4 linked regions of the Homo sapiens genome follow. The protein of the gene in region 2 purifies or fractionates together with the protein of the main gene of each other region. This does not show direct contact. Each region holds a gene or a part of one and is shown on either strand. Other genes may lie near its edges. The genes, in order: CACNA2D2, ALKAL2, LTK and CACNA2D1.

The links.
Region 1: the proteins of ALKAL2 (region 2) and CACNA2D2 purify together in Homo sapiens (affinity purification with mass spectrometry; one large-scale study listed by BioGRID and IntAct). This does not show direct contact.
Region 3: the proteins of ALKAL2 (region 2) and LTK purify together in Homo sapiens (affinity purification with mass spectrometry; one large-scale study listed by BioGRID and IntAct). This does not show direct contact.
Region 4: the proteins of ALKAL2 (region 2) and CACNA2D1 purify together in Homo sapiens (affinity purification with mass spectrometry; one large-scale study listed by BioGRID and IntAct). This does not show direct contact.

The regions. Positions count from the first base shown.
Region 1 is NC_000003.12:50,493,179-50,497,702, forward strand, and holds part of CACNA2D2 (voltage-dependent calcium channel subunit alpha-2/delta-2 isoform b precursor), read right to left. Parts: intron 1-4,524. UniProt on the Homo sapiens protein: The alpha-2/delta subunit of voltage-dependent calcium channels regulates calcium current density and activation/inactivation kinetics of the calcium channel.
Region 2 is NC_000002.12:285,051-290,052, reverse strand, and holds the start of ALKAL2 (ALK and LTK ligand 2 precursor), read left to right. Parts: upstream 1-1,961; 5' UTR 1,962-2,040; exon of another isoform or gene 2,041-2,088; intron 2,089-2,160; 5' UTR 2,161-2,217; coding exon 2,218-2,470; intron 2,471-3,428; exon of another isoform or gene 3,429-3,709; coding exon 3,710-3,763; exon of another isoform or gene 3,764-3,849; coding exon 3,850-3,930; exon of another isoform or gene 3,931-4,124; intron 4,125-5,002. UniProt on the Homo sapiens protein: Cytokine that acts as a physiological ligand for receptor tyrosine kinases LTK and ALK, leading to their activation. Cytokine-binding is sufficient to activate LTK. In contrast, ALKAL2-driven activation of ALK is coupled with heparin-binding to ALK.
Region 3 is NC_000015.10:41,506,974-41,511,497, forward strand, and holds part of LTK (leukocyte tyrosine kinase receptor isoform 1 precursor), read right to left. Parts: coding exon 4,449-4,524; intron 4,436-4,448; exon of another isoform or gene 4,374-4,435; coding exon 4,191-4,373; intron 2,157-4,190; coding exon 2,058-2,156; intron 1,264-2,057; coding exon of another isoform or gene 1,249-1,263; coding exon 1,096-1,248; intron 685-1,095; coding exon 589-684; coding exon of another isoform or gene 541-588; intron 491-540; exon of another isoform or gene 472-490; intron 318-471; coding exon 122-317; intron 1-121. UniProt on the Homo sapiens protein: Receptor with a tyrosine-protein kinase activity. Following activation by ALKAL1 or ALKAL2 ligands at the cell surface, transduces an extracellular signal into an intracellular response.
Region 4 is NC_000007.14:81,947,780-81,951,220, forward strand, and holds part of CACNA2D1 (voltage-dependent calcium channel subunit alpha-2/delta-1 isoform 1 preproprotein), read right to left. Parts: intron 2,730-3,441; coding exon 2,613-2,729; 3' UTR 1-2,612. UniProt on the Homo sapiens protein: The alpha-2/delta subunit of voltage-dependent calcium channels regulates calcium current density and activation/inactivation kinetics of the calcium channel. Plays an important role in excitation-contraction coupling.

The sequences.
Region 1 (4,524 bases), on a different chromosome or scaffold from region 2:
CCCATCCTCCATCACTCCCTGCCTTCTGCAGAATCTCCACCTCCAGCCCAAGGTGACCCCATCCTCGGCTCAAGGGTAAATCCTGATTAGCCGGAACCAATCACAGTGTACTGTTTAGATTGCCAGTGATTGGTTCAGAGTGGGCATGTGACTCAGTGCCAGCCAATGAGATGTGAGAGGAAGTCGGCTGGGGGCTTCTGGGCAAGGTTTCCTCCCCTCTTAAGAGAAACCCAGAGGAGACATCTCTTCCATGCCTAGTACCTGGGTCTGCAGATGATGCCTGGAGCTGTGGCAGCCATCTTGTTGCCATGCAGTAAGTTGGCCAAGGACAGACAGTTACACCAAAAGCGAGGCCACCAGGCTGAGCACAGGTGACCACTTGGTCTTTGCCAGCAGCCGCATCACACACCTGTTGGCTCCCTGTCAGGGGATAAAGGGCCCACCATGAGGAAAACCCACCACACATGATAAGCACAGAAGCAGCCTCTTGTTGGCAGCCAAATGCGCTCCTCAGACTCAGATCTTGAGGGGGTCGCAGTCAGCTCAATGCCTACTCCTCAAGGGCCCCATGACCCGGCACAGAGCTGGAGGCGGGGCACGGGTCTGGAGGAGGGACTCACAAAGGGCAGGGAGCCGGAGGAGGGTGTTGGTCAGGAAGGCTCCTGCCCCAGGGCCCTGGGCGAAGCCAGCAGCCTGGAGAGGGACACGGTGAGCAGTGAGCGAAAGCCAGAGGTGCGGAGGCCAGAGCTCTTCCCAGGACCTTCAAGTGTCCCAGATAGTCCCAGGGCCGGAGGCTGGAGTCAGCCCAGGCAAGGCCTCAGGGGCTAGCCAGGGAAGTGGGGCTCTGCCCATGGCAGGTTTCTGGGGTGCAAGGTCCCAGCTAGCCCAAAAGGGAGACACTCCAGCAAGCCTGGCGGGGGGTCCAAGGAGAGATACAAAGACTCCCAGGGCCCTAACACACCCACCACGGACTCAGCTCACAGAGAGAAAGGAGAAATGCCCATTTGCAAGGGCCCTTAGCACAGAGGCCTGCTCTGCCAGCTCCTTCTCTTTTCTCATAACTGAAGTGGGGGCAGGGCGGGGGTGGGTTGTTTAGTTGTTTGTTTGCTGGAACTGGTGGCAGCACCAGACCTGACCTTTAAGGCTTCAAATGCAGCGTTTTAGGCGGGGCCAGCAGGAGGAGAACACGGGCTGTGGAAGGAAGTGATCAAGACTGAAATGCCACGTCAGGCTGGAAACTCGAGGCAGAGCATGGGCCTCTACCATCTCAGGAATACGCCAGCCCCTCCAAGCCCACACTGCCTGGTGACAAAGTTGTCCTTCCCAAGGGGACCCAGAAAGCTTTTATGTCTCTGAAACAGCACAGGGACATCAGAGTTTGCCCCACAGAAACCCAAGGAGTTGGGGCCTCACACCACATAGACATCTTGCCCTTCGAGTTTGCCAAAGCAGACCTCAACTTGCCCCCCGACCCATGCCATAGATTTTATTTATTTATTATTTATTTATTTATAAATGACAGGCTCTCACTCTGTGTCCAGGCTGGAGTCCAATGGCACCATCACAGCTCCCTATAGCCTCAACTTCCTGGGCTCAAGCCATCCTCCCACCTCAACCTCCTGAGTAGCTGAGACCACAGGTGTACACTACTACACCTGGCTAATTTTTGTATTTTTTTGTAGAGATGGGGTTTTGCCATGTTGCCCAGGCTGATCTTCAACTCCTGGGCTCAAGTGATCCTCCCACCTCGGCCTCCTAAAGTGCTGGGAGTACAGGCGTCAGCCACTGCACCCGGCTGGATATTTTTATTTAAGAGAAACAGCTGTACATCAGTGCGAGGAAGGCTGCATAGGGAGTCGCCCTCCCCGCAGTCTGTACTGAGCATTAGGGATGAGGGCTGGGCCCTGCCCACAGAGTATGTGCAGCCACAGATATGTGGGGCTTGAAGGTTCCCTTCCCCCATCTTGGGCCTCAGTTTCCGTGTCTATATGATGGTGGTATCAGGACCTCAGGGATTTCTGTGGCTGTGGCATGTCCTTTCCAAGTCAGGGACGCATGCAAAGCCCATAATGCCCAAGGAGACGGTTGCACCCAGGCTCCCTGCCCCCACAGGAACCCCTCCTGGCCTGTAGGCTCCTGAGCCCCTCACAGCCACTTCCCAAAATCCCAAGGGCCCTGGGCCATCGCAGCACTGACAACACACAGGCGCGTCCTGAAAATGCCAGGAAAGCAAAACTCTCAGACAACAGAACCCACGAGAACTGGGTCCACACAGCTACTGGGGCCAGGGCCCATCACAGGGCATCACTGGACAGCCTTATTTATGAAGACTCAGTAGACAAAAATCCATCCTTGAAGGAAGTGTCTTCGCTGGAGATGCTCCAGATGGAGAACATGTGGAGGAATCATCCCTCCAGATCATCAAGGGATCATCAAGCCAAAGTTTTTACAGCCCAAATCGTGCCCACAGTGTCTTGCTGCGGGGAGGACCCAAACCCACAGCAGATACTCAAGGGCTGCCAGTCTCCTGCCCTTCAGTGTGCAAATGAGAAGCACCCACTCTGAAAGGGAAAAGTGCCAGCCCAAGGTCACACAGCAAGAGCTTCCCACTCTGCCTGAGCCCAGGCTCCACGCCCACCCTCCAGATTTTCCACGCGGGGAAGGGCTGTTTGCAAAGATGCTTCACTTCACAAAGGACTCACGGAGCTCCTCTGAGTCCCAAGTCCTCCACTGAATGTAAATACCATTCAATTTGCAAAAATTTGAATTACAAGGACGCAGCCTCTGTTTCCTTTGCAGACTGTCATCACGCCAGTTGGTAGAAGATCAAACTTTCCAGCTCAGCTTTAACTCAGGCTGTTTCTAACATAAAAGTTTGCAAAACACTGGCCCTAACAATCAGGATGCTTTATTTCCCACTGCCAGTGTTTGCCCAGCCGAGCCCTGGCATTAACCTCAAAGGCAGGTGGTGAAGGTGGGCACTAGGAGCCCATTCTGGCTGCAGAGATAAACCACACGTGTGCTTGCACTACATAGGCTCCCAAGCACATGCCCGCATTTGACTTCATATGCACATACACGCACACACCTACTGCTGCCTACACACGAGAATGCCCATGCACACACATCTACACACATGCATCCATGTGTGAGTACAAACACACGCACACAAGTGGGTATACGCACAAGCATGCTTAGATGTGAACACGTCTGACACATGCACACATACATGAACACACAGGTGTAGACACGCCCACATACAAGCTGACATGTGCACACAGGCAAAGGCAAGAGCCAAACACAAGAGGAAAGACTCACAAACCACAAGTGGGTCCCAAGTGCCTGTAGGGCCTGGATGGGTGCTGGGTGCTATGGATGAGGGGATAGTGGCTGGCACTTGGAGTGCAGGCCCAGCTAGACTGCAAATACCCCCTAGATCCAGTCGGGATCCACATGCCCTTATCACAGACTCCCTGGGGCCAGGCCCATCCCTCACAGTCTATCACACCCCAACCCTATGTGGCAGTACAGCCACGGAAGCCCTGTTTTACAGATGAGGCTCCAAGACCCTGAGAGGCTGTGGAAGTTCCCAAGGTCACACAGCTGTTGAGAGGTGTGGCAGAGTCTCAGTGCACACGAAGAGGGGGCTTGTTCAGAAAGAACTAGCCATCAGGGAAGGCAGGCATCAAAGGGGAAGAAAGGGGCCCAGGGTCTAAGAGGGGCAGGGAAAAGACAGGCAGAAGGAGTGACTTCTCAGCCTTTTCACCCACCTCTTCCCCTTTGTTGAATGAGGATCATTTCCAAGGTGGGAAAGATGGATACTGATCAGCAGGAAAGGCTTCCCATGCCCCTCCCCCTCTGCTAAACAATTAGGCTGATCAGAACTCAAAGGGGGTCAATCTGAAAAGCAGCCATGAGACACCCAAGGTATGGCCAAAGGAGGACGGGAGGTCCAGGCACCCTCACACTGGAAGAGACAAGGCCCAGCGGCCACAGCTAAAGCAGGGCGTGGAGAGGAGCAGGAAGACCCCAGATCTGTCTTCTTAGGGCATTGGAATGTCAGAGTTGGAAGGATCCTGGAAGAAAGGAAACTGAGGCCCAGGGGGAGGAGGGGTTTTGTCCAAGGTCACCAAGCAAGCTACCCAACTGAGAAGATTAGGCTGGGCTTGCCCTTGACAGAGGCCTCCTCACCTAAGATGGGGGCTTTCAGAACTCCTTTGTGAATATTCTCCCCACCTAATCCCAGCTAGACAGTCTCCTGGTTTGTGAGGCTCTCCCCTCACCAGGCTCAGTCACGGGTAACAGTGATGGCTGGGGACCCAGCAGGTCCAGACCAGATGCAGAAGGAAAAGCACTGTGAGGGCCCAGGTGAGAGGAGCGGGACCAGGACCGGGGACACCAAGCCAACAGCCTGAGTCTCACAGTGGCAGGGCAGGGCTTGGCTGAGTCTGCCCCTTAGGTCCTGACCTTATGTAGATTTGAATGACAGAATCTTGACTCCTTTAGGGAGGCCCCAAGAGACCC
Region 2 (5,002 bases):
CACATTTCATATCTTCTCTCTCCACGCTGCCTCCCCGCCCAGCTCTGCCGGACACTTTCTCCTCCTGAGGAGACAGACCCCGTGCAGGAAGAGAGAAAGGACGCGGGGACGGGCGCAGACGGGGCCTCTCCGGGAGCTGGGGGATCGGGGCGCGGAGCCTTCCGCCCGCACCGCCCGCGCTCACGTGCGCCTGGGCCAGCACCTTCCCGCCGCGGTCCTGCGACTGCCCCGATCATGGTGCAGGCCTTTAATTCTCGCCCACTCCGCCTCTCTGATTGCACTCAGAACACCTTTCCCAAACAGATCGCGGACTTGGAAGACGTCCAGCTCTTGCCCAGAAAGCACCAATCGAATGGGAAAGTGCGCAACTGATTGATAATACATTTTACAAGAATAAAATAAAAGAGGCAAATTGCTGAACTTTCACAGATGTGCCGGGCTTCGGCCAAAGAGCCAAACTTTCTTAAAGACGAGTCCGGGAGGCAAGTGCCCTCCTGCGGGCGTTCCCTGCCGGGGCGCGAGGGACCCGCGGGCCGAGGGTCCAGCGCAGAGGAGCGCGCAGATGGCGCGGTCCTTGCCGGGGAGGGACCTTCGCTCGTCCTCTCGCAGGGGGTCTGGGGAGGGGGTGCAGGTCCTGCCCCTCCTCGGGTGGTCAGCTGTGCGCACCTCGGGGGCCGTGGAGAGTCCTCACCCGCCCATCTCCTGCCTCCTGGCCGCCCCGCCTCGGGGACCAGGGCTTGGGGACCCGAACCTGGGGACTGGGCTCGGGCGGGGCAGACCCCTCGAGGTCCGGAGAGCGGATCCCTCCAAAACGGATGGACTCTAATTGACTTATTAAATGTCGAAGCAATCAGGCAGCTCCCTTTTTAATAGCCCAAGATCTACATTTAGACAAAAACAGAACCGAGTTCCTGGTAAAGGCGTTTCTTCTCATCCTGTCACAAGTGACAGGAACGGAGGGAAACAGACTGGGGGAGGGGCGGGGGGAGGAGAACAGGGGGAAGAGGAGGAGACGGGGAGTGGGGGAAGGTGGGGCAGGAGAGGAGGAGACGGGAGATGGGGAAGGTGGGGAGGGAAGGGGCGCGGGAGACGGGGCGCGGGCGAGGGGGAGACGCGGTGGAGATGCGGGTGGGGGGACCGGGCGGGGGCGGGGGCGGAGTTGAGGGGGAGCGGGAGACGGGGGGAGGCGAGAGCGAGGTGAGGCGGGGGGACTGACGAAGATCCGCATGGGGGTACTAACACTTCAGCGGCTTCTAATTAAAGCCCCGCTCGGAGCCCTTGGGGACCCGCCTGACGTCGGCGGGCGCGGGGATAAGAAGCTCCCCGAGGTCTGAGGCGGGACTCGGAGCCGGCGCACCCCAGGTCGGCCGTGGGTCCAGCGCTCGGAGCGGCCGAGTCCCCGCGTCCCGTGCGCTCCGCCCGCCGGGCATGGAGTAGTGGCGCAGCTCGGGGCGCGGGGACAGACGTGCGCACAGACGGCGACGACTCCGGCGGCTCCAGGTAACCGGCCCGGCCACGACGCGCAGGTGGCTCCCGGGTGGCGCCGGGCAGGTGCGGGAGGGCGCCATGGCCGGGAGGTGGAGGGGCTTCCAGCACGTGGCGCGGCCGGGGCCAGCGCGAGGGTCCGCACCCGGCCTCCTCCGTGGGCTTCGGGGACTCGGCGCTCGCCGGCGACCACCGCGCAAAGGCGACGCTGGAAACTTGAGCGCGGCCGCCGGGCCCGGCGCGCGGCGCCGCCTTCTTGGAGAGCGGTAGGCGCGGGAGCGCGGCCCCTCCGAGGTCCGCCCGCGGCCGGGGAGCTGCCTGGCACCCGCGGCTTCCAAAGGGGAAAGAAAGTTGCGCCCGCGCCAGGCGCAGCGCGCTCGGCGGACGCGGCCTTTCGGGCGAAAGTTAGGAGGGGCCGGGCTGGCGGGCGGGCGGGTTCCGGGGGCTCCTTTCCGCACCAGCGGCGGTCGCTCCCCGTGGGCGGGACCTCGGGCGTGATCGTCGAGGAGACCGCGGCTCCCTCACCTGCCGGCTTGTTCCTCGGGGTCCGCGGAGGTGAGGGGCCGGGTCCAGCGCCAGCGGCTCCTCCCGCCTCCCCTCCCCTCCCCCGCCCCGCGCTCCGTCCCCCTCCCCCGCTGACTTTCTCTCCGGCCCCCCGCGCCCCTTCTCTCGCAGCGAGCCCAGCTCTCGGCGCGTGTCGGAGTCTCCCAGCCCCGCGGCCCCGAGCGCACGATGCGCGGACCCGGGCACCCCCTCCTCCTGGGGCTGCTGCTGGTGCTGGGGGCGGCGGGGCGCGGCCGGGGGGGCGCGGAGCCCCGGGAGCCGGCGGACGGACAGGCGCTGCTGCGGCTGGTGGTGGAACTCGTCCAGGAGCTGCGGAAGCACCACTCGGCGGAGCACAAGGGCCTGCAGCTCCTCGGGCGGGACTGCGCCCTGGGCCGCGCGGAGGCGGCGGGGCTGGGGCCTTCGCCGGAGCAGCGAGTGGGTGAGTGGGGCCGAGCGCGCCCGAGGGCCGGGGCTGCTGGGAAATAGAATTGTCTTTGAGAAACACGTTTCAAAAAGAGACATCAATTTTGACCACTGAACAGCAGGATTCCTTTTTTTTTTTTTTTTTTTTTTAAGAAAAAGAAAATAGCAGCAATAGGTCCGCGCATGAGGCCTGGCGGAGAAGCGCCTGGTCTCCTTCTGGCGCGCGTGAGCTGCGGCGCGGGTCGGTGGTTTCCACACTAAACTGTCAACCGTCACTTTGGAAATGGAAGCATTTCCAGCAAAGCTTTCCCAACTGAAAAGGAAGCATCCAGGCTCCTTCATGGCCCTGCCCAGAGTGGTGGCCCACGGGGAATTTCCCAGGAAAGCATGAAAGCGTCTAATGCTTTTGTGACACAATCAGGTCAAACATGATAAGGTCAGTTTTATCCCGGCTGCGTCAAGTTAGGAGTGAATGAAGACTCACTAGGGGGTCAGCTGTGGATGCGAATGCTCCTCTTCAGAGGGCGTGACTTCACACACAGTCGGGGCTCAGCCAGGAGCCCTGAACGGGGGAGTGAAGATGGAGAGGGCTGTAAATACGCAAAAACAAAGCTGAACTCAAGAAGAACGCCCTTGCAGGGTTCTCCCCACCCACTGTGTGCGGAGAACCCTGGTGGAAGAAGTTTGCTTGGCAGAGTCTTTCCCTGGGATTCTTACCCTACAAACCAGGTTCATGCATATTCCCACTAATTTACACCTCACTGAAACGTGGTCTTTTAATCCTTACTCTAAATATGTATCTAGATAAAGTAATGTTCTGTAACCCATTTTTTTGTTTGAAGGGTCAGGTTTTCTCTAAAAACTTTGAAATGTTGTGGGATTTGATTCCCAAGGTCCTTAAAACTAAAGTGCCTAAAAGTGACTTATTCACTGGAAGTTAAATGTTTAAAAGAAAAAAAAAACAGTTTTCTTACCTCTGTAACTTCGTGGTCTCTGTCTGCATCCCACGGGGTAGACAGCCGACATAATCCTGGAGCTTCAGGAGCAGTTACTGTTATTTCAAGGAAAATAAATGTCCCTGATATTGAGTCTTCTTCACTGTCGTGTGTTGCAATCCAGGGCCCCAGTCTTTTTTATTTTGTGCAAAGCAACTTGGCTAATATGGAGCTCCAATTTTCTTCAACATTCACTTAAGATCACATTTTTAAAAAATGCGTCCTTCAGGTAATATAATACTTTCTTTTCCCTGAAACAGAAATTGTTCCTCGAGATCTGAGGATGAAGGACAAGTTTCTAAAACACCTTACAGGTAAGTTTTCTCCTCGTTCCTCACGTCTCCCAGAGCTCCTTTTCACCTGTGAGTCTTCATGATCTGTTTCTTCTTCCGTGTTCCAGGCCCTCTTTATTTTAGTCCAAAGTGCAGCAAACACTTCCATAGACTTTATCACAACACCAGAGACTGCACCATTCCTGCATGTAAGTAACAGCATTGGATTTTTATAAAATGCAAGAGCAGTGCAGGCAGCGGTTCCCCTCTTTCCATTTCCTCATATAGGCCCCTGCCTTCTTAGCTCAAATTTGCCTATTCCTTCCTCACTATGGAGTTAGGGGCCAAGATCGCCAGACCATTGCAGAAGATAACTAACTTCTGCATCAGCTAACGCCAAACTGGAAATTATTTACAGTCATTGGAATAATAGGCTCTTGGGATGGGCTGAACTCCGATTCTCCTCCTGTTAATTCTCCTCCAATGCCCATGTTTGTGTGTACTCTACTATGGCAGTCAGATGTTAAGAATGAGTTGCTAAACTGACTCCAAGAATAAGATTGACCTGGATCATCTCCACTGCTCTTACCAGAGACTTTTTCTTCCCATTGGTAATTATAACCTCATCACCCAGGAATTTCATTGTGATTTCAAAACTGTTTCTCTGGCTGGCTCCATCACTCCTTCAGAAATGCAGAGCTGCCCTTATCAACATAGCTCTCAGCAGTAGCTTTCTCTCCTGTTTCTTTTCAGTCTTCCTAACCTGCTTTTGGCTATTTATTCATAACAAAACATTTTATTTCTCCAAAAGTAGCTCCTTGTTCTCTTCACTGAAGCCTTATTAGCTACAGTGATAGGGCCCTAACCCATTTTTTTTAATTCGGACTCCAACTTTGATTTTATTTAAGGCTCACAGGAGAAAAGTCATGCAGAAACACTAGGCATCCTGCTAACTGCTGTCATCAGGGCTCTCCAGCTGGACCAGGCAGCGTTCCGGACTTGCTGTCCTGCCTTCCCTCTCCAAAAACAAACAAACGAAAAGCCAATGTACACGAAGTATAAGTGCTTTTCTTTGTTTAGGCAGCAAAATTACTTCAAATAATAATAACCATCATTTATAGAGCTGCTTCTGTGTGCCGGGTGCATGCCAATGAACCTTGGCCCACTGAAGTAGCGTCACCAGCGCGTTTTGGACAAGGCTAAGGCACATGCACTTTTAGCATTCACATCACCGCACAAAGATGCATGGAACGCAGCCTCGGCCCCTCTGACCATACCTTT
Region 3 (4,524 bases), on a different chromosome or scaffold from region 2:
TCCCTTACACAAGGGATGTGGGCCAGATTTTTTCTGGGACTTATAATTCACTACAGCAGGGAGAGAATCAGAGGTGGGGATTCAGAGTGCATAGGTTCTCAGAAGGAGGCAGAAGACTTACCTGAGCAGAGTAACATTGGCTGGGGAAACCTCGGTGACACCTGGTGGCAGAGGCCAGGACTGGGCCGGGCCAAGCCCCACCTGGCAATAATAGGGATTGGGGGCTGTCCTGATGGCAGAGGTTCGAAGCTTGCTCAGCTCAAGCTCAGGGCTCGGCAGCCTCATCTCCTGCAGGCCCTGCCACTTCTTCTGCTTCACTGGGGGTGGGAAGAATAACGGCACACCCTCCACCTGCCCATCAACTCTCCCTCCCCCACCTGCCCAGGACACCCCTCCAGATGCTCATTAAGGTAAACGTTTTCCCCAGGCCTCCCCAGCTCCTTCCTATCTTAGAATCCCAGAGGAGTCTACCACGGCTCTGCTGCGGTGAGTGGTCTTGAAGTCAGCCCCGGGACCCCGCAGAAACCCATCCCAGCTCACTGGAGAGGAGCAGCCTTGAATCAACTGTGCCTGCTAGACGCTTCGTACCCAGAATCAGGACCCCACACACCATAAGGAGGCTCAGTGTTGAGGTTGCCACCACAGCCACCATCAGAACCAGAGGGCCTGGGGGCTTGTGCAGGTCTAGGGAGAAAGAGAGACACCTCCAGTGGGAAGGTCTTCTCTGTTCCTTTACCCTCAAGTTTTACCCACGCTTCAAGACTCAGCTCAAGTGTTAATTTTTCCATGATGCCTTCCCCCATTATCCTGGGCAAAAGCAACCTCTCCCTCTTGAACACCCCTAAAGCACTTTATACCTCCCACAACAATCGTCACTTGAGATATACATTTACATAGCTATATCTAAACATCCTCCCACACTGGACGACAGGCCTCTGAAAGGCACTGTGCACCGATGAATCTCCAATCCCCTGCCCAGCACCCACCACAGGGCCTGGCACACAGCAAATCTCTATACCATCTTTCCCAGTGGCCTACTGCTCCTCCCAGTCTGTGACCCCAGGAGTCCAGACCTTGGGCAAAGGTAGGACATACCCATGCAGGTGACGTTATCCACAGCTAGCTCCATGCCTTCTGGGCACAGGCATTCAGCCAGCTGGAGCTCTGCCTGCCATTGGCAGTCTCTCAAAGGGCAGTGACTGCAGTTGAGGTGCCTTCGGATCTCTACCTCTCCGTGGTTCTCGGTGACTGTGAGTAAAAGAACTGATATGATATGGTGTGGTAGGGCTGGGATATAGTAAATACATGCCTTTGGCTGGGTACAGTGGCACACGCCTATAATCATTGCACTTTGGGAGGCCGTGGTGAGCGGATCACCGGAGGTCAGAAGTTCAAGACCAGCCTGGCCAACCCCGCCTCTACTAAAAATACAAAATTAGCCGGGTGTGGTGGCGCACGCCTGCAATCCCAGCTACTCCAGCACTGAGGCTGCAGAATCACTTGAACCCGGGAGGCGGAGGTTGCAGTGACCCAAGATCGCACCACTGCACTCCAGCCTGGGTGACAGAGCGAGACTCTGTCTCAAAAATAAAAATAAATAAATAAATAAATAAATAAATAAATAAATAAATACATGCCTTTTCCAGCCACATGGTTAATTCTAGCCCAGGACTTTAGAGCAAAGAGCAGCACCAAGCTTACAAGGGTGGTGAGAGAAGCTGGGGGACTTCTGTCAAGCCTGCACACTCCCAGGTATTTGAAGCGAATTCATAGCAAGGGGGTACTTGAAAAGCACGCAGCATGCCCTGCATTGCCATCCAGCACGACTGGCAGCCCACTTTCCTTTTTTTTAAGACAGAGTTTTGCTCTTGTCGCCCAGGCTGGAGTGCAATGGCATGATGACAGCCCACTTTTCAAATGACCCTATGCTATGCAAGAATCCTGTGCTATGCAAGGTTATTCACAGTGCAGGTGGCTCTTCAGTGCAGTGCAGGAGTGGGCTCAGGGACTGCGGAAGAAGTCCAGGCCAGGCTCAGAGGTGGGGTTGGGGCCAATACCTGCCAGAGGCTGCAGGAAGAGCTCGCTGCTGGGGTGTATGAAGGATACTCCATCTTCCCCATCAGCCCAGAGGTTGTCAGTCTCTGAAGCGTCGCCCCCTGGAAGTGGAGAGTGATGGAGAGTTTGACTACAAAAATGGGGGATGGGGGAGAAGCTGGAATCTCCCGGTGGAAATCCCAGTGTGGCCCTCTCTTCTCCAGCATCATGATGCAAATGCTGTCTGTTCACAAGTGGGAGTGAAGGAGGTGAGGAGGGGGTAATCAGCTGGAGCCTGAAGGCCTCGCTGAGGCTGGCTGGGATGCCTCCTGCCTGCCTGAGCCCCTCCTGTCCCATGTCCTCACAGTCCCTTTCTGTGAGAATGTAGATCATGTGTGTATGTATGAGCAGTACAGCCCAGACAGGCACAAAGGCATTTACACTAGTTATTTGATCAAAACACAGATGACTGGGACTCTCCCTTACAGTTTCTGATTCAGTATGTTAGAGAAGGGCTGAGAATTCGCATTTCTTTTTAAAAATTAATTTTTAATTAAAAATAAAAATTCAGGGCCAGGTGTGGTGGCTCACGCCTGTAATCCCAGCACTTTGGGAGGCCGACATGGGCGGATTACGAGGTCAGGAGTCCGAGACTAGCCTGACCAACATGGTGAAACCCCATCTCTACTAAAAATACAAAAATTAGCCGGGCATGGTGGCGCATGCCTATAATCCCAGCTACTCAGGAGGCTGAGGCAGGAGAATTGCTTGAACCCGGGAGGCGGAGGTTGCAGTGAGCTGAGATTTGTACTACTGCACTCCAGCCTGGGCAACAGAGCCAGACTCCATCTAAAAAAAAAATTCATATATTTATTGTATACAGCATGATGTTTTGAAATATGTACACACTGTGCAATGGCTAATGCAAACCAATATATACACCACCTCACATGCTTATTTTCTGTGGTAAGAACACCTATAATCTACGCTCTTACCAATTTTCTTTTCTTTTTTTTTGAGACAGAGTCTTGCTCTGTCACCCAGGCTGGAGTGCAGTGGCACGATCTTGGCTCACTGCAACCTCCGCCTCCCGGGTTCAAGCGATTTTCCTGTCTCAGCTTCCCGAGTAGCTGGGACTACAGGCATATGCCACCACGCCCGGCTAATTTTTGTATTTTTAGTACAGATGGGGGTTTCACCATATTGGCCAGGCTGGCCTCAAACTCCTGACCTCAAGATCCACCCGCCTCCGCCGCCCAAAGTGTTGAGATTACAGGCGTGAGCCACCGCGCCCCGCCTCTCTTAGCGATTTTCAAGAATACATCGTCATTAACTACAGTCACCATGTAGTACAGTAGATTCTGGAAGGTATTCCTCCTATTTAACTGCCATTTTGCATTGTTTTGACCAGCATCTCCCCAACCTTCCCCCAACTCCCAGGATAATTTCCATTGTTTTTTTTTTAATCTTTGAGACAGAATTTCCCTCTTGTCGCCCAGGCTGAAGTGCAATGGAGTGATCTCGGCTCACTGCAACCTCCGCCTCCCAGGTTCAAGCAATTCTCCTGCCTCAGCCTCCAGAGTAGCTGGGATTACAGGCTCCCGCCACCACGCCCGGCTAATTTTTGTATTTTTAGTACAGACAGGGTTTCACAGGTTGGCCAGACTGGTCTCGAACTGGTGACCTCAGGTGATCCACCTGCCTTGGCCTCCCAGAGTGCTAGAATTACAGGCGTGAGCCACCAGGCCCAGCTGATAATGTGCATTTCGAACAACTTAGGTTGTGGGGATATTACCTGTTCCTGGACCACACTTTGAGAACCACTGACTTAACCCAATCCTGCCTTTCTGCCCCTTTGCTCAGCTTGCTCACTCGGCCAGCTCTAAGTTCTGAAGACTGCTGCAGAACAAGGCAGGGACCTGCTGTGATGGGAAAGATCCTGGATTAAACGGAAATCTAGGGAGTCCTGTCTGCATGCTGATTTGCAGTGTATTTGACCTCCTTTTCTAAGAGCTCCTGCTTTTTGTTTGGAGCTGCTGAGCAGGGCTTAATGCCTCTCCCACACCTATCCTCCCGAGGGCTCCGGCCTGTACTTAGGTTCTAACATCACCTCACCCTCGGGCCTGCTCAGCTGCCCTCTCCAACGGTGCACCTACCCCTGTAGCCGCCGCCGCCTCCGCCCGCAGTGCAGGCCCCGCCGCCGCCCCCGAAGCCGCCGGCCGCGGCCCAGCCAAGGGTCGCCCAAGCCTCGGAGCAGCCCTGGCCGCCCTCCGCCCCCTCCTGCAGTGAGCGGCCGGCCTGCGGAGAGGGAGCCCGCGACGTCCAGCCGCCCCCACCACCTGCAGAGCGACAGCAGGAAGGTTGGCAGCCACACGGGGAGCACGCCCGCCTCTCCCCGCGGCCCGCGCCCTCACCTGCCGCCCCGCCTCTCCCGCCGCTCCCGGGCGCCTCCGAGCGGTTCTCCAGTTTCTCGGGGGAGGCCTGAGTCCG
Region 4 (3,441 bases), on a different chromosome or scaffold from region 2:
GATGAGTGTTACTGTCTTAAAAAATATGCTAAAAGCATGAAGACTAATATTAGTCATGGGAACAACTTTTATTCAGCTTGTTCTTACCCAATTTGTAATTGCATTTATGGTTGTCATAATATATAACTTTATAGCAGAAAATAAAGGTTTATAGCAAAACTCATGCATATAAATATATTTTGATGGCAACAGAAATTAAATAGGATCCTGCCAAGAGATGCCAAGTTTAACCGCGATTAATACAATAACAATGTAATTGATGAAAACATATACTCGACATTAGCCATGAAAATATATTTAATAGATTTTGAACATAATTTTAAGGTAGTTTGTTGTATGCTGGAAGCAATTCAATTGTTTTAATGTGCATTGTTTATATACACAAACTAACAATTTTATATTTTGATACCCCCTTCCCAACACTATCATGATTTAAGATAGTCTAGCAAAAATTGAACAATAACTTTTAAATATTTAACAAACAACATGATTAAAACATTGTTACTAGAGTGAGAAGTTTTTTTCCCCACATATATTTTAAATCACTTTGGTGTTTTCTAAAATGTCAATACCAGTTATGAATGACACTACAAAATCACAACAATGCATTAGAAATGGTAACTGATGTCAACTCTTAGAACAATAGTTGGCAAAGTGATTCCATTTCCCCCCACCTTTTTATTGAAAAAAAAAATCTTGAAATGTACACAAATGGTACCTAAGGTATATTGGTGGTGGGAGGGAATTACAAATGTATGCAAAGCTAAAAACAAAACAAATGTTATCTTTTAAGCTACGTTAAATTATTGGTTATATCTTTGATATGTGGAGCATATTAAAGCATGCTGGATAATGTTAATAACTTTGACTTAAAAAGGATATGTAAGAAAATTTCCAGCATATACACATACCAGTAATTGGCATGTTCCAAAAAAAGAAAAACTGCATTTTATCATAAAAAATATCTACATACGTTCAGCCTTCAGTAAAATTATTAACTATTCTTAGAATTACACATTCATAGTTTTTACCTTTTCTTCAAATACTGTTTGCTCCAGAAAATAATTTTTAAAAGCATAAATAATCTGCTACCATATTAGTCTATAATGAAATATCTGATTTACTACACTAACCATTTTCACCAATGAGGCTGTATAAAAAACAACTTTTATTATTCACAATCAAGTATTCATGTGCATACATAGAGATTCAAGGTTTCCTATTTGTTCAGATTATTGTAAAACCCTTATCAACTTGCATGGAAATTTTGGCCAAACGATCATACCATTTAAAATGGAAGGGCAAAAGCAGCAGTAGCAGGAACTTTTGGATTGTATGTGCTACTATTGAAACGAACAAAGAGGAAACCTAGGATGAATCTTCATTGAGAACATATATGTACTTTTCAAAAAATAAATGTGTCAAATCTGATTTATGTACTTAAAATATCTGTACATAGGTTATCAGGCGAAAGCATGAATCTGTATAAAATTCATTAATTCTCATTTCACCATTTATCTAACCCCAATCATTCAGCATTTACATTGCACAGTATATTCAGAGTAGTTTAACAACATTTTAAAGATGACTTAAGTGCATTTACACTGCAAGGTTCAGATTCTTACATAACAATATCACTCAGTTAACTTTTCAATGACTACACTCTACAGTAAGAGAAAAAACAACTGAAAAGTTAAAATAGCAGCAGCATCATGCAAAATACCCTTGGTAAACCAAAGTTCATTTATCACAAGAAAAACATTTCCCCCTCCCCCCTGACAAGCTTTTCTTAGAGCATTTTTAAATATCTGGCTAGCACTACATAACTGTACTGTGAACAAAAGGAACATTACATCAAAGCATTTATTAAGGGCTTGCTTACATTTATGAGGAAATATGTCACATATTCTAATTTCTCCCTCAAGCACCTTTAGTTTAATAATTTCTTAGTTACTATTTTCAAACCATCAATTCATTACCCCATCAAAATTGAATTGGTCATCAATTGTGTTTTATTTTTGGCAAAGAAGCCGTTCTTCATAAGGCATTTTATTCATGGCAAATTTTTCATAGAAAATTAGCCATTATTTATATTTCAACAATTTAGACCAATGTTAATTCTCTCTTTCTCTATATATTTCAATAATTGCTACTTAAAGCAGGAATTAACTTTTCACAGAAGAAAAAGTGAAGGCAAAAATAATTTCTTTCCCCTTAGAGATTTTCTTAGTAAAATTGCAGCAAGTCAAAATTCCAGGTCAATATCAAGACATTTCTTATGGTTCATTAACAATTGTATGGGGAACCCTTTCACATGTAATCACCAACAATGCAACAACAAACTCCCAAATTTTCCAATAGAGGACACGTATAGGATTTTGCTTTGATGTTACACATAGATGATGCAGCATTCACACACGTTTAAGGATCTGACACCCTGACATGCAGCCAGTGGGTGCCTTAGGAGTCTGCGCCTTAGTGTTATGCCATGGAACAGGCCCAGCTAATGTTTGTCTGATTTTATAGCTGACCCTACGTTACTGTAATTGAGGGCAGGGCTCATGTTTTGGCAGGGTCTGGAGTTTAACTATGCAGATTTGGTTTTTAGAAGGTCATAACAGGCGGTGTGTGCTGCCAGATACCAGCCAAAGTAGTAGAAACTGGATTCCAATGATATACCACAGGGAGGGATTTAATCCAGAAACACCACCACAGTCAGTATAATCCTCCTGTTGTTAAAAAAAAAAGAAAAGAACAGAAAAAGAAAAATCTAAAAATCTTGAAAAATATTTAGTAACACATCTTTCAGAGTAATCCATATTTAGTTCACTTTCTGAACTTACCTTATAAAACTGCTGTAATTGAAATCCAAAGAAATTACTTTCTCCTAGATTTTATCATTGAGGAATTTCCCTAGCATCATTTGACAAATGCTTTAAATTTTTAGTTGTAGCTTTTGATGATTATGAAAGAAAATAATAAATGCTGTTTGAATAATATACTAATTTTAAAGAAAAAACTTTCACAGTATCAAAAATCCTATATATTTATAAATGCAAGAAATAAATGTAAAATTTAATAGTAGGTTTTATAATTCCCAAGAATTATGATTTTAGCAACTATGCTCCATATGGTAAAGTTGGGGACTGGTAAAATAAATACATTTCCATTTCCCATATTTCTTATACAATTTATAAGGCTCAACATAGAGTGCAATCATAGCATCTGGACCTTCATCAAGAATTAAAGTAAAATGGGAATAATGTATTTGAACCATTGTTTATGTTGGTTCAAATACATTATTTGGACACATATAGGATTTTGCTTTGCAAATATATATCCAAAATAGAGAGCTAAGCTAGGAAGAGATTTGTCTTGAGACAACCAAGAAATATTAGAATGAATATACTCCCATTAACTCCCCACAGTCTAGTGGTAGCT